Linked DNA regions of Homo sapiens: region 2 is linked to region 1. A link means that fine-mapping ties the variant in region 1 to the expression of a gene that starts in the linked region. Tissue or cell type: whole blood. Region 1 holds a variant in brackets; the other region holds the start of a gene. All regions are shown on one strand. Distances are from middle to middle.

Region 1 (8,103 bases):
CCAGCAGGGATCTCTAGCTCTCCAGGTGAGCACTTGCCTCCTGCCCTCCTCAAGGACTCTACCCTTGCCAAGGTCATGGTACCTACTTTGAGGATACAGGGGATGATGGGCCCCACATAAGGAGTAAACTTGTCTCCAAAGGTGATGGGCAGGTAGTTAAACATCATAATGTAGCCATCTCGGACATGGGGTGCAATGTCCACTTTGCTGGCTGTAGCCACGATTTCTGGCATCAACTTCTCCAACTTCTCCACCCCCAAACCGGCCATGACCTCAGCCAACCCTGCAACAAAGGACAGAATGAGTCCACTGGATCTGAGGGCCCCTTAGAGCATTCCCAGGCTGGCCACTGGACCTGCTCTGGCCTTACCCTGTGCAGCGCCTGAGCGATCCACAGAGCTCTGCTCATAGGTCAGTGTCTCCATCAGCCACGGCAGCAAGTCCTCAAAGCACGACTCCCCCATGCCCTTCACCATGGCCCCAAGGGCCTTTGCAGATACGGTCCGCACCTGTCAGGTAACCGAGAGCAGAGATGGTGTGAGAAGATGAGGCTCAAAACAAGGTAGCCACATGGGAGCAGGAAGGGGCACCGAGGGCCTCTTTCTCTTTACCCAACAGACACAAAAGCAGCTTTGGGGAATTCTCAGGAATCCATTTATGGGGACTGGATGAGGGGCCTGGCCCATCCCCCAGCCTACCTCAGACTCACCTCAGGCACAGGGTCCAAAAGCGATGCTTTCAGGCCAGGCGTCACGCTGGGCAGGTACGGAGCCAAGTCCTGCAACAACACAGGAGGCGGCTCAGGTGAGGCCCGACTCCTGCTTTCTCCAGGCCTGTTCCACTGTGGACCCTGACCTCCCCATTCTGCTGGCAAGGAGTGCTTGGCAGGGGCACCTAGCATGCAAACCTCACTGCCCACGGAACAGGGAGGGCAAGTAAGTCCCCTCTCCGACTGGTTCCTTCAAGGCCCTCTGCAATTGCTCAGGGACTCCTACAAGGGACCCCAGGCCCATCCTCAACAAACAGGAGTTCAATGCTCTTGCACCTCCCACCCTTCTCTTAGGACCAAGGCCTGTCCAGACTCTGGAATCTTTAGCAAATTACTTCTGGTAATTTCCTTTCAGAATTTTATTAACATCTTCCCTTTCTTCATCTCAAAATGTTTATGTCTTTTGATAGAGCATTCAGCTTTAGGGAATAATTTTAAATACAGAAAATGCCTTATGTTCACTGCAGCATCACTTAAAATAGCCAAAAACCTTGGACACTATATGACCAATGATAGAATTATATAAGTTATGGTATATAAACTTGTTGAGATATTATGTAACTATTAAAAATCAGTTTTGTGAATAACTTGTTATAACTTGGGAATAAGTTTTAAGTTTAGGAATGCCATTTTTAAATGTAATTTTAAAAATTAACAGTAATTGGCCGGGCACGGTGGTTCACGCCTATAATTCCAGCACTTTGGGAAGTCGAGGCGGGTGGATCACCTGAGGTCAGGAGTTCGAGACCAGCCTGGCCAACATGGTTTCACCCTGTCTCTACTAAAAATACAAAAATTAGCCAGGCATGGTGGTGGGCGGCTGTAATCCCAGCTACTCGGGAGGCTGAGGCAGGAGAATCGCTTGAACCCAGGCGGCAGAGGTTGCAGTGAGCCGAGACTGATTCAGTGCACTCCAGCCTGGCAACAGAGCAAGACTCCATCTCAAAAAAAAAAAAAAAAAAATTAACAGTAATTATTTTCGTGGTGGGGAACTGTAGATAAAATATTTTGGTTTTCTAATTTTTTTAATTAATTAATTTACTTTTTAAGACAGGGTCTTGCTCTGTCACCCCAGGCTGGAGTGCGGTGGTATTATCACGGCGGTATTATCACGGCTCACTGTATCCTCAACCTCCTGGGCTCAAGCTATCCTCCCATTTCAGCATCCCAAAGTCCTGGGATTACAAGCATTAGCCACCAAGCCTGGTCTGTTTTTCTGGTTTTTTAATTTCCCAAATTTTCTAGGATTAATATAACTTTTATATATTTTTTTTGCCCATAGCCTCAGTAAGCAAAGCAGAGCTATGGCAGACAGTGAGACCACACATGTGAGCTCCTAAGGCAGACAGTGAGATCACACATGCAAGCTCTTGGGAGCAAACAAACAAACAAACAAAATCTCCCAAACCAGGCTCTCCTGACAACAATACAGGAGTATTCTTGTCAAGAGCAAGTAGTCAAAGTGGCAAGCACTTCAACACTCTTGAGAGGTCAAAAGAGAAGACAGGCCTTTCTGGGCCTCAGCTGAGAACTAAGAAGGACTTGAACCACTGCGCTAAGATGCCCAGAGAGCCCGGATTTCCACCACAAAATGGCTCATTTCTCCCCATAAAAATAATTAGGGACTAACGTCCATAACTTTCCATGTCTAATGTGGGGACTCTGCACCTCTGACTCTGCACTCAAACATCTTCTGGTCTATCCCACACTAGCCTCAGCTGGGCCGCTACCTTCTGGTCTGTCAGGGAGTACATGTTGCCAATAATCTGGGCTGCCATCTTCCGCGTGTCCGTGGAACGGTCCTGGAAGGCTCTCTGGACAATGGGCATGATGAGGGCCAGGGATGGGGCATCAATGAAGTGGACAAACTTGGTGTCCAGCAGGGTCTGCAAGCACTTCTGGGTCTTCCTGGAGGGATCCGTCAGGGCATCCAGGAGGACTGGAGCAATGGCTGCACATCCAAAGAGAAGAGAGCTGGATGATATACATCTATGCAGCTGCAAGGCCCCTGGGCCCCCAGAACTAGAATGGATCAGAAGAGAAGGGAGTCTGGCACACCTCCTCCCTGAAACCCCACAAGTCACCAGCTGGGGAAGACAGGAAACCCACAAAGAGCAATCCTTGTTTCACTCCAACTCCTGACCTCAGGTGATCCGCCCGCCTCAGCCTCCCAAAGCGCTGGATTACAGGCATGAGCCACAGAAATAAAATTTTTGAAAAGCATGTATCCTTAGTAAATTTCTGGTTTGCCTATCGGTAATGGAGAAGTGTGTTGAAATCTCCCACTATGATATAATGTATTTGTTAACTTTTCCCTATAGCTTTATAAATTTTGTTTTATGTATTTTGAGGTTATTCCACTTTCCAGACTGAAGTACTGACTGGGCACTGGCAGCTGAAGCTTAGAATTTAACAAGTGACATGCTGGTCAAGGTGGCTGGCTGGGTTTTGTTCCTAGCGATCGACCTCTTCCCAGTACTTGAGAAAGAACCACATCCAGAGTAGTCAGGTTAATCCTAACCCTTCCTTAACCCTCCCCTCTATCAAAGGCCTCCTGGAATGAGATGGAATAGCAAGTTTTCACAGGTCCTAACATTTTGAATGGTGCTGATGTGGTCCAGATAATGTCATTCAGTTCTGTTGACCTCATGCTCAGCTTAGTGCACAGGGATCTCTTGGAGTCAAACTGCTCCTGAGCCAATGACTCAGTGTCCCTATTTCACTGTGAACATATTTGTCCTCGGAGGCAAAGATCTTAGCTGAATGGGTGCAAGTTCCCTGCAGTGTCCAAAGGCTGCGGCGTTGGTGGGAGGTCAGGGCAAGCACCCTCACGGGAAAGGCCTACCCAGGATCTCCGGGTTCCTGATAACGGAGCCGATCTGCCTGAGCGCCTGCTGTCCAGCCTTCTGGACTTTGACATGGGAGTCGGTCAGCACCTCCGTAAGCTTGGGCACAATGTTGGGTAGACAGGATGACAGCTGCTTAGGAGCACAGTACGCCATTGCCCCAAGAAGCTCCACTGACCCTGTGGATAGCAGACACAAGCCCAGTACTGAATCACTGAGCAAAGGCCAGCAACTCACCTGTGCTGGCTACATGAGCAAGGGACATCTACCCTGGCCCCTGCAGACGGTGCTCAAGCAGTCACTGGGAGGAGGGGAGAGGGGGCTGGCTCTAGCAGAGGGGTCGAAAAAGCTCTTGTGGCCTGCTGAACAGTGGGATCCCAGGTGAGAGGCAGGGCAGTATGGGAGAAAGAGACCAGGATAGGTAAGACCTGGTTTAATCCTTACAGTGAGATCCAAGGCCAATTCACTGAATTTCTCTGAACTGTTTCTTCATCCACAAATGAGGAAACTGATTTAGATTTGTGTTGTTTCAAACTACAGGGTGAAGCCTGAAGGACTGAGAAGGAGGTTGAGTGGGAGGGCCTTAGATGGTGATCCTCCCCCAACTAGAGCAGCTCTACTTTTATCTGTTTGCTTATTAGGGTGCCAGACATTTTATTTATTTATTTTTGAGACAGGGTCTCACGCTGCTGCCCAGGTTGGAGTGTGGTGGCAAGATTATAGCTCGCTGCAGCCCCAAACTCCAGGGCTCAAGTGATCCTTCCACTTCAGCCTCCTGAGTAGCTGGGACTACAGGCATGCACCACCACACTTGGCCTATTTTTTTTTTTTTTGGTAGAGGTAGGGTCTTGCTATATTGCCCAGGCTGGTCTAAATTCCTGCCCTCAAGAGATTCTCCTGCCTAAGGTTATTTTCAAAAAGAGCTTTCC[T/TG]GGGGGGGGAAAACTTTAAAGCCAAAGAGGAGCTTTAGAGCTTTAGGATATCCTGACTTAGGGTTGTGGCTCTTGTCAGAGACCTGTTTCTTGGCATGAAAGCACATAAACTATAGAAAGATCCAACTGCCAGAGGGAGAGCTGGCCAGGCGTGGTGACTCACACCTGCAATCCCAGTGCTTTGGGAGGCCAAGGCAGGAGGGTCACTTGAACCCAGGAATTCAAGGCCAGTCTGGGCAACATAGCGAGACTCCATCATTACAAAAAAAAATACAAAAATTAGCCAGGTGTAGTGGCATGCTCCTGTGAGAATGGTTTGAGCCCCAAAGGTAAAGACCAGCCTGGGTGATAGAGCAAGACTCCATCTCAAATTTTTAAAAAGGCAGAGTCTTAACCCTATCCCTGGTCTGGGGAGCTCACAGGACAAGAGCTGTGGCTACCCAGGATCCTTGCTGAGGCTGGTTTTCATAACAGGAAGCTGGGAAGAGAGGCAGAGCGAGTGGTCTTACCAGCTTTGGTCCGCCACGATTCCTCCTCCAGGGCAGCCAGTAAGGAGGGGAGCACCAGCTTCACCCCGTGAGCACTCAAGTTGCTCATCACAGCCTTGGCACAGTCATCTGCAGCCTCAAGGGGGGAGAAAACACATTCAGGGGCCTCCTCACCCAAGCAAGGGGCAAGGCCTGACACCAGTCCTAGCGTTCCTCCTATAACCAACGCTTACTGGGGTTCTATTATGTCAGACCCTGTGCCAAGGCCTGCAGACACAGCTGGGAACACATCTCATAAAGTTTCCATGCTGTTCTCCCGAGCAGTCCGGGGACTTACCTCACGCACATACTGGTTTCCATCCCCAAAGCACAGGAGCAGATGGGGCAGCACGTGAACCACATACGGCTCAAAAAGTTTCCCCAGCATGGTGCAGAGCATCTCGAAGGCAAAGAGGGCTCCTAGGGGAAAAGAAGGTGGGACGGCTGGGAAGAGAATGTCCCCTGGGGGTAGCCACAGAGAACAGAAGGGACAGCAACCTCCCTGCCACCTCCCACCCCTCTGGAAACACTCAGAAACAGCTGTGGAACTAGTAGATGCCCCATGAGGAGGCAGCACCCTCTGCCTCAGCTCAAGAAGCCCCAGCAAAGGAATGTGGCTGAGCGAAAGGGAGGACAGCACAGGGGAGCCACCTTCACTTCTTGGCACTAACAGTTAAAAAAGCCAAACCTTGGCCGGGCGCGGTGGCTCACACCCATAATCCCAACACTTTGGGAGGCTGAGGCAGGCAGATCACGAGGTCAGGAAATAGAGACCATCTTGGCCAACATGGTGAAACCCTGTCTCTACTAAAAATACAAAAATTAGCTGGGTATGGTGGTGGGCACCTGTAACCCCAGCTACTAGGGTGGCTGAGGTAGGAGAATTGCTTGAACCCAGGAGGTGAAGATTGCAGTGAGCCGAGATTGTGCCTGGAGACAGAGTGGGACTCCATCTCAAAAAAAAAAGAAAGAAAGAAAGAAAGAAAAGCCAAACCTCTCTCAGCTAAGGGTGTTGCTGAGTTAGAAATTTGTGGCCGGGCGCGGTGGTTCATGCCTGTAATCCCAGCACTTTGGGAGGCTGAGGCGGACAGATCACGAGGTCAGGAGATCGAGACCATCCTGGCTAACACGGTGAAACCCCGCCTCTACTAAAAATACAAAAAATTAGCCGGGCGTGGTGGCGGGCGCCTGTGGTCCCAGCTACTTGGGAGGCTAAGGCAGGAGAATGGCATGAACCCAGGAGGCTGAGCTTGCAGTGAGCCAAGATCACGCCACTGCACTCTAGCCTGGGCGACAGAGCGAGACTCCGTCTCAAAAAAAAAAAACAGAAAAGAAAAAAAAATTTGCAAGTCCAAGGAAAGCAGCAAGGACGCAGCTGGACTGGGTCGCACACAGCGGGGCCCTCTGTAGTACACGCACAAGCAACGGCCTCCACCTGGGGCGCCACGGTCAGATTCCTTCCTCTGGCAACCTGGGGACCAACTTCCCATGCTGGGCAGCCCCAAGCTCAGAGATGCTCACCCTCTCGCCGGCGGAAGTTCTTCTTATCTTGGATGGCATCAGTCAGTGCCGCCATCATCTCCTGTTGCTTCAGCGAGAGGATGCCCAGGCCCTTCACCAGGCCCGCCAGGCCATAGGCGGCCCCTTTGCGCTCTGCGTACTTGTCTGACTCCAGCAGCTGCTGCATAAGCCTCTGGATCATCCCTCCAGCATCCTCCTTGATGGCTGGCACAAGGGGTGGCAAGCAGCTGGCTACGGACTCCTGGACCTGGGGAAGGGCCCACCTGTCAATGCTGTGGCTCCGCTGCAGCCGTTTCATGGTTGGTGGGGGGTCTGACCATTCTACACAGCACCCACCACTAGATGTCCCAAGCCCCATCTCAGCCACTGCCTGCGGATGTCACAGGGCACCAGAGAAGCAAACAGGTATACACAGTGTTGTATACCTCTGAGGGTGCACACTACAATCTGCTGACGACAAAAGCTTTGGCCCATATGGTGCCATTTCTGGTCTAAATGGAAAACCTAGGCCTGGGCAGTGGGGCAGGGGACCAAGGAAGGGACTCTAAAGACTAAATCCACTCAGAAAGAAAGCTTCCAGAGAAGTGTGCTGCTTTGCCTCCATAAAAACAGCCCGTGTCTCTGTTTCCAAACTTGTCAAAATCACAGAGAAATTGGGCAGGGCCTTATAGGACCAGGCACAAATTGAGTGGAACCAAAAGACACTCAATCCTGCCTCCCAGCCGCAGCTCACTAAGCCCAGCTTGGGAGCAGCAACCCCGAGGCCATGCTGGCAGGTGCCCAGGTGCGACTCTTTTGCTGCTTAGGCTTTCTGACACCATATTTGACCACAATTTTGGAAACTGGTTTTCAACTGTGCATTTTTTTGGTAAAGTTTTTTGTTGTTTTTTGTTTTTGTTTTTAGAAATAGGGTCTTACTCTGTCACCCAGGCTACAGTGCAGTGGCACAATCATAATTCACTATAACCTTGAATTCCTGGACTCAAGCAATCCTATTGCCTCGGTCTCCTGAGTAGCTAGGAACACAGGCATGGCCTCCACCTCTGGCTAATTTTTAAAGTTTTTGTAGAGACAGGATCTCACTATGTTGCCCAGGCTGGTCTCGAACTACTGGCCTTAAGCAATCCTCCCACCTCAGCCTCCTAAAGCACTGGGATTATAGGCATGAGCCACCACGCCCAGCCCAACTGTTCACTTTATGAAGACACTCTAAGTGGTCCAAAATGCAAACCACACACACACGCGCACACACACACACACACACACAAAATATATATATATAAATATATATATATTTATATATATATACATGCGTGTTTTTCAAAACAAAGAAAAAGAAATTTATTTGCACTGTAGCTTAGAGGCTACATTAAAACGCACCTGTAGCCTCCTAAAGCACTGGGATTATAGGCATGAGCCACCACGCCCAGCCCAACTGTTCACTTTATGAAGACACTCTAAGTGGTCCAAAATGCAAACCACACACACACGCGCACACACACACACACACA
Region 2 (8,103 bases), 52 kb after region 1:
CCAAGTATGCAGCAGCCATAGAAACAGTAATTCTAGTGTAATAGTTACAACTGTGTCTAGAAAACTGTATAGGATGTTTGATTGGTAGCTTCATTTAGATACCCAAACATCAACACCTAAATACAAAGCTCTGGTTTTACCATGGCTTTCGTTTCTAGCATATGGCACTATAAACCTCAAAATTAAGGGCCAGGCACATGGTGGCTCAAGCCTGTAATCCTAGCACTTTGGGAGGCTGAGGCAGGATTCCTTGAGGCCAGGAATTTGAGACCAGCTTGTGCAATATCTCTACAAAAAAAAAATTTAAAAATTAGTAGCTGAGTGTCATGGTGTGTGCCTGTAGTCCCAGCTACTTGGGAGGCTGAGATACGAGGATCCCTTGATCCCAGGAGTTCAAGGGTGCAGTGAGTTATGATTACACCACCACACTCCAGCCTGGGCAACAGCCAGACCCTGTGTCAAAAAGGAAAAAAAATTACAAAATTAAGAGTCCAGAGACTTTTTAAAGAAGTAAGCCTTTATTTCCTTGTTTTGCAAATAAAACTGGCTAAGTTGGTTGCTTTTTGGTGATTAGTCAAAGAGACCAAATCCCATATCCTCGTCCGACTCCTCCGACTCTTCCTTGGCTTCAACCTTAGCTGGGGCTGCAGCAGCAGCAGGAGCAGCTGTGGTGGCAGCAGCCACAGGGGCAGCAGCCACAAAGGCAGATGGATCAGCCAAGAAGGCCTTGACCTGAAAGGAGGGGGGAAGTGGTCAAAATGGTCATCCACACTCCTCTATTACCCACCACCCTCCTGCCTTGGTAGAGTTTAAGGACCAACAATATCAAAGTCCGTGTGAAGCCTTTCCTGTCAGAAGCAGCCCAAGCAGGACAGCTTGGGTATGGCCTAGTGAGGCAGGGTTCCTAAGGCCCAGCTCTTGCCCATTAACCCCCTCTTTGGGTCTCTTGTCATTTCTCAAGTGAGAAACGCCTTCCCTGCCTCCCAACCTCTCAAATATCCCCTCACAAAATTATCTGCTATATAAAATACAACTATAAAAGCAGTAAGGTAGAAGGCCACATCACCCTGCTAATTTGTCACAGTCAGGCCCACTGTGGTCCTGGTGGGATCCTTTTACCTTTTCAGCAAGTGGGAAGGTGTAATCCGTCTCCACAGACAAGGCCAGGACTCGTTTGTACCCGTTGATGATAGAATGGGGTACTGATGCAACAGTTGGGTAGCCAATCTGCAGACAGACACTGGCAACATTGCGGACACCCTGGGGGAGGGAAGATTTCATTTTACGTGAGATTCCCTACAGGAAAGGAAGTCCAAGTAAGGGTGAATAAAGAGAACCCTTAGCAGACAATAATTGCCAGGTTGGCAGCTCAGTCTCAAGAGAGGCCATTTCATCTCATACCAAATGCTCCTGGCAGAGCAATTCAGCCCCATCAAATAAATTTTGCCCTTATTCCAAATCCAGGTCTTCTGTATCCATTGTTGATGGCATTTACTTCCAAAGCCCCTACCACAACAGTGAAAAGCATAAACGACTAACGTAGCCATTGAGTTCCATGAACGAAAAATGTTCAACGATTTCCAGATGTGAACTTCATTCACTTGTCAAACTTTCAACAAATGAAGCTACCTAAGAGTAGCTAATAATATCTAATTATATACATTAATTTCAATTTTTCATTTGTCCAAGAAATGACATTTTCTATCACTATTATTCATTATTTAAAGGGCATTATTTTTTTTGTGAGACAGAGTCTCACTCTGTCACTCAGGCCGGAGTGCAGTGGCACCATGTCAGCTCACCGCAACCTCCACCTCTTAAAAGGCTTTTGATGGCAAAATGTGAGTCTCAATGCAGGCCCTAGAATAACAGCCCCAGCACTGTACATCCATTAATTCATTAAATCCTTTGGCCAGGCGTGGTGGCTCATGCCTGTAATCCCAGCACTTTGGGAGGCCGAGTTGGGCGGATCACGAGGTCAGGAGATCGACACCATCCTGGCTAACGCGGTGAAACCTAAAAATACAAAAAAATTAGCCGGGCGTAGTGGCGGGTGCCTGTAGTCCCAGCTACTCAGGAGGCTGAGGCAGGAGAATGGTGTGAACCCGGAGGCGGAGCTTGCAGTGAGCCGGGAGATTGTGCCACTGCACTCCAGCCTGGGCGACACAGCAAGACTCTGTCTCCAAAAAAAAAAAAAAAAAATCCTTCAACAATCTTATGTTGTTACTGACATTTTACAGATGAGGTAGGTAGACAGATGAAAACACAGTCCTTGGTTACAGGGACTCAGTCTGAACCTTGTCATGCTCTCAACCATCAGTGTAAGAGGGGGCAAGGCTGACAGCATATACCTCCAGGAAGCGAGAATGCAGAGTTTCCTCTGTGATATCAAGCACTTCAGGGTTGTAGATGCTGCCATTGTCGAACACCTGCTGGATGACCAGCCCAAAGGAGAAGGGGGAGATGTTGAGCATGTTCAGCAGCGTGGCTTCGCTGGCTCCCACTTTGTCTCCAGTCTTGATCAGCTGCACATCACTCTGAACCAGATAATAGTGGGGCAGTAAACACCTGTTGGACAACCAGCAGATCCATGGCCACTAAAAGCAGCTCCCCATTTGCCTGGTTAGCACAGGCAAACCAGGTCCACTCACCAGGATTTCAATGGTGCCCCTGGAGATTTTAGTGGTGATACCTAAAGCCTGGAAAAAGGAGGTCTTCTCGGGCCCGAGACCAGTGTTCTGGGCTGGCACAGTGACTTCACATGGGGCAATGGCACCAGCACGGGCAGCAGCTGGCACCTGACAAAGACAACAAACAGTGAGAAAAGCCTCTCCACTCACACAACCTGAGAATGGTCCATTTTGCTTTAAGGAGCAACAACAAAGTCTCTTTAGCCAACCCAATTGTCCCCTTACCTTATTGGCCAGCAACATGTCCCTGATCTCAGTGAGGTCCTCCTTGGTGAACACAAAGCCCACATTCCCCCGGATATGAGGCAGCAGTCTGCAAAGAGAAGTTTATGGGAGACAATCACCTTTCAGCACCATTCTCCAGGAAGAGGGAGACGGGCACTGGGGAGAAAGGACAAAACTGCCAGGGGAACTGACTTCTCCAGAGCTGGGTTGTTTTCCAGGTGCCCTCGGATGGCCTTGCGCATCATGGTGTTCTTGCCCATCAGCACCACAGCCTTCCCGCGAAGGGACATGCGGATCTGCTGCATCTGCTTGGAGCCCACATTGTCTGCTCCCACAATGAAACATTTCGGATAATCATCCAATAGTTGCTACAAAAAACAAGCCAGAGGAGCCAAGTTTAACAGGAAGAGAGAGGGAAAAAATGCCAGAAGAAACTGAACCCCACAATTTGTTTCCATCCCACTCCCTTTCTTCTAAGCTTTTGAAGTCAGAGGGAGATTGGGAGCTACGTTGTAACACTGCCAAACTGGATGATTGGCTAGCTGGGTATGAACGCTGAAAATTAGGTTTCTACATTCAATCAAGGAGTTTTTTCTTTTTTTACTTAGTTTTTAATTTTTCCCAATTACCAGGCATGCTTCTGATTCACTAAAATGGTTAACAGGATAAAAAAGGAATGTTCCAAGTAAGTTGGTCAAGAGGAGGGCTAGATTCACAGCATTAAAAGCACCACGTTAAGCAAATATAGCAACATTATTATTTGTAAAAACAATCTAGGCGTGTTTATCCGGATTGTTACACAATTCCTTTGGGTTTTGTGTCTGAAAACCTTCTAAGTGTGGGAAAATGTAATACAAGCTATGCTCTACAATGCTGCCTAATTGCTTAAGCGCAGTACAGTCAGCATTTCTGGGCAAGGGAGACCCACCTCAAAGGCCATCCAAAAGTCATTGGACACTTAAGTTTCTTGGCTGACAGGTCCTAAATATGCAACAGCTTGCTTCCTTACAATGAGTCATTCCTGACCTCAGACCTTCTCAAAAATGGAGTAAAACTGTAATGTGCGGCCGGGCGCGGTGGCTCACACCTGTAATCCTAGCACTTAGGGAGGCCGAGGAAGGTGGATCATGAAGTCAAGAGATCGAGACCATCCTGGCCAACATGGTGAATCCCTGTCTCTATTGAAAATACAAAAATTAGCTGGGTGTGGTGTCGCGCCCCTGTAATCCCAGCTACTCGGGAGGCTGAAGCAGGAGAATCGCTTGAACCTGGGAAGCGGAGGTTGCAGTAAGCCAAGATCAAGCCACTGCACTCCAGCCTGGACAACAGAGCGAGACTCCGTTTAAAAAAAAAAAAGTATAAAGCGCGCTCTTTTAGAAGCCAGACAGACCTGGATACGAATGCTGTCATCTTAGGACCCACTTAACTTGCCTGAGCCCGTTTATCTGCAACAGAAGGGACCTATCTCAGGAAATTGTTAACTAAACAGTATTTTCCCAAAAATGGCCTAATTCAGTAGCCGGTGTGAGTAGACCCTCAGCACATAGCAGCTGACTGTCCCTATTTGCGCTGGGGCAACATGAAGAGCAGAGGCGACCCACCCTGCACTTACGATGATCTTAAGGAAGTAGTTGGACTTCCAGGTCGCCCTGTCTTCCCTGGGCATCACGGCGGTGCGTCAGGGATTGCCACGCAGGGTTTAAAGACGATGTCACTGAGGAGAGACAGGGAGCTCAGGCCTGGTCACGCCGACACCCATCCCGCGGTCCCGGGCCTAAGAGGAGCAGGACACGCGCAATCGCCCGCCGGCCCTGCCTAGGGCAGCGGCCGTCATCTCGGGGCGTGCAAGCCGCCACCGAGGCCCCAGGCGGAACAGAATAGGACTCCATGTTCCCAAAGGCCCCCAAAGACCCCTCCATGCTTCCCGCCGGCGACCCCTGGCGCCCATCTAACTAGCACACGAACCTTCCACGAGGACGCCTGGCGAGAGAAGGGCCTCGCGCCCGCGCGTGCCTTTTATAATGCGAACAAAGTAGCCAATCAGAAACCGCGGATAGCGCTCCTGTCTATTGGCTGCGCCATCGCCCGTCAGACAAAGCTGAACGAATACAGGCAACCATTGGATAATATCGCTGCCACTCCAGCCAACGGAAAGCCGCCTTTAAGTAGGGTCGCGAAGGAAGGCGCTGCCTCGCGTTGGAGGAGCTTGCTCTGAGCTGCTGCCACCTGCTGGGCTGGAGCTGGAGCTGGAGCTGCGAATTCGGAGTCCCGGTTCCCTGTGCCACCTGGCGAGCTCAGCAAACTAAAAGGTATGACGTGGAGCTGAGACATAATTGCACATGCTTAGAAACAGAATGGTTTCTCTTTTTTTTTTTTTTTTTGAGACGGAGTGTCGCTCTGTCGCCCAGGCTGGAGCGCAGTGGCGCCATCTCGGCTGACTGCAAGCTCCGCCTCCCGGGTTCACGCCATTCTCCTGCCTCAGCCTCCGGAGTAGCTGGGACTACAGGCGCCCGCCACCGTGCTCGGCTAATTTTTTTTTTGTATTTTTAGTAGAGACGGGGTTTCATCATGTTCTCCAGGATGGTCTCGATCTCCTGACCTCGTGATCTGCCCGCCTCGGCCTCCCAAAGTGCTGGGATTACAGGCGTGACCCGCCGCGCCCGGCCTCAGAATGGTCTCTCGTCTTCTCTAGTTTTTCCGCCTACCAAAACAGAGGGATCCTTTAAAACCTGGCCGGGCGCGGTGGCTCACGCCTATACTCCCAGCACTTCGGGAGGACGAGGCGGGTGGATCACCTGAGGTCAGGAGTTCGAGACTAGCCTGGCCAACATGGCAAAACCCCGTCTCTACTAAAAATACAAAAATTAGCCAGGTGGGGTGGCGCATGCCCGTAATCCCAGCTACTCAGGAGGCCGAGGCAGAAGAATCGCTTGAACCCGGGAGCTGTGAGCTCTGCAGTGAGCTAAGATCACACCATTGCACTCTAGCCTGGGTGACAGAGAGGGACTCCATCTCAAAAAAAAAAAAAAAAAAAAAAAAACCTAAGTCAGCTCATCTCCTTATCTGCTTAAAACTTTCCGTTTCCTACAGAGTAAAAATCTAAAACCTAAAGTACCTACAAGGCCCTTACCTATCTGTCCCTCACGCCCACTCTGATCATCTCAGATGTTTTCCTCCTCACTTACTTGCTTTCTACCCAGATGATGCTCTGCTGCTTTTCCAGAGCAGGCTTTACTTGGGGGCTTTTGCATTAGCCATTCCCTCTTCCTAGAAAACTAGCCAACAAACATCCATAGAATAATTCACCTCCATCAAATCTTTTTTTTTTTTTTTTTTTTTTTTTTTTTTTTTTGAGAAGCAGTCTCACTCCGTTGCCCAGGCTAGAGTGTAGTGGAGCAATCTCAGTTCATTGCAGACTTGACCTCCCAGGCTGAAGTGATCCTCCCACCTCAGCCTCCCAAGTAGCTAGGACTACAGGCACACACCACCACGCCAAGCTAATTTTTTGTACTTTTTGTATAGATGGGGTCTTGCCATGTTGCCTAGGCTGATGTCAAACTTCTGGGCTCAAGCAATCCTCCCACCCTGGCCTCCTAAATTGCTGGGATTACAAGAATGAGACACCTTGCCCAACCCTGAGATCTCTTTTTTTTTTTTTTTTTCACTGAAACCTATGGAATTATGTATTAAATGATCCCCAAAGAATCAGCTATTTCAAAATTAAAAATTATTACAAAGAGCTTCATACATCATGTTATATCCTATATCACACACCATAAAACTGTCAGAAGTAGGCCGGGTGCGGGGGCTCATGCCTGTAATCCCAGCACTTTGGGAGGCTGAGGTGGGCAGATCACGAGGTCAGGAGATCCAGACCATCCTGGCTAACACAGTGAAACCCCGTCTCTACTAAAAAATACCAAAAGTTAGCCAGGAGTGGTGGCGGGCTCCTGTAATTCCAGCTACTTGGGAGGCTGAGGCAGGAGAATTGCTTGAGCCCAGGAGGCAGAGGTTGCAGTGAGCTGAGATTGCGCCACTGTACTCCAGCCTAGGTGACAGAGCAAGATTCCGTCTCAAAAAAAAAAAAAAAAGTTAGAAGTAGCTCGATTTCACGTTACTGTATTTCTTTTTCTTTTCTTTTTTCTTTTCTTTTCTTTTTTTTTTTTTTTTTTTGAGACAGAATTTCACTCTTGTTGCCCAGGGTAGAGTGCAATGGCGTAATCTCGGCTCACCACAACCTCCACCTCCCGGGTTCAAGTGATTCTCCTGCCACAGCCTCCTGAGTAGCTGGGATTATAGGCATGTGCCACCATGCCCGGCTAATTTTGTATTTTTAGTAGATACGGGGTTTTTCCATTTTGGTCATGCTGGTCTCGAACTCCTGACCTCAGGTGATCCACCCAGCTCAGCCTCCCAAAGTGCTGGGATTACAGGCGTGAGCCACTGTGCCTGGCCTGGGGTCTCTTTTATTTGTCTTCTTGGCTATCTGTGTTCCATGGGAAGGATGGAAAATAACATGAATGAGATTTAAATGCTGTTTTGACAGGTTATTAAGATTCCAATCACTCCAGGTGCGGTGGCTCACGCCTGTAATCCCAGCACTTTGGGAGGCTGAGGTGGGCGGATCACGAGGTCAGGAGATCGAAACCATCCTGTCTAACACAGTGAAACCCCATCTCTACTAAAAATATAAAAAACTAGCCGGGCGTGGTGGCATGTGCCTGTAATCCCAGCTACTTGGGAGGCTGAGGCAGGAGAATGGGGTGAACCCGGGAGGCGGAGCTTGCAGTGAGCCGAGATTGTGCCCCTGCACTCCAGCCTGGGTGACAGAGAGAGACTCTGTCTCAAAAAAAAAAAAAAAAAAAAAAAGATTCCAATCACAATCTGCCTACTCTCCCTGATCGAGCGAAGTCCAGAAAGGTGGCAGAATGTCTCTAAAGCAGCTACACACACACACACACACACACACACACACACACACCCCAAAAAATGCCAGAAAAGATGGAAGAGTAAGAAAATCAGGCCAACATGAATAATTTGGTAAAGTGGTGGGCGGGGCGGGGGGTGGTGGCGGTAGCAGGTTTAAAACCAAGACACTTGCATGGCAGGGTATATTGGTGCAGCTGACTGGCATAAAATTCCCTGAACAGAATTTAGATACGGGTAGCTCAAGTGCTGTCAATCTCAT

What was found. PIP is the estimated chance that this variant, and not a neighbour inherited with it, causes the effect.
Region 2: it holds the start of RPLP0, and the variant in region 1 is fine-mapped to the expression of RPLP0 in whole blood (INTERVAL, PIP 0.96).

What each region holds. Positions count from the first base shown.
Region 1 is chr12:120,144,553-120,152,655 of GRCh38, forward strand. GCN1 (GCN1 activator of EIF2AK4) reads right to left here. Exons shown (of 58, transcript NM_006836.2): 34 at 6,593-6,839; 35 at 5,370-5,491; 36 at 5,054-5,168; 37 at 3,615-3,794; 38 at 2,500-2,720; 39 at 710-778; 40 at 371-509; 41 at 87-283. Among named protein-coding and RNA genes, the nearest start is that of MIR4498, 6.9 kb to the right of the region's middle. The variant T/TG (reference allele first, on the strand shown) is at 4,545.
Region 2 is chr12:120,196,203-120,204,305 of GRCh38, forward strand. RPLP0 (ribosomal protein lateral stalk subunit P0) reads right to left here and starts at 4,909. Exons shown (of 8, transcript NM_001002.4): 1 at 4,881-4,909; 2 at 4,528-4,629; 3 at 3,108-3,283; 4 at 2,916-3,003; 5 at 2,652-2,798; 6 at 2,352-2,537; 7 at 1,120-1,260; 8 at 497-732. The coding sequence starts at 4,581. The coding sequence ends at 571. PXN-AS1 (PXN antisense RNA 1) reads left to right here and starts at 5,089. Exons shown (of 4, transcript NR_038924.1): 1 at 5,089-5,224. RefSeq lists enhancers at 1,994-2,493, 2,613-3,554, 4,595-4,664, 5,065-5,424.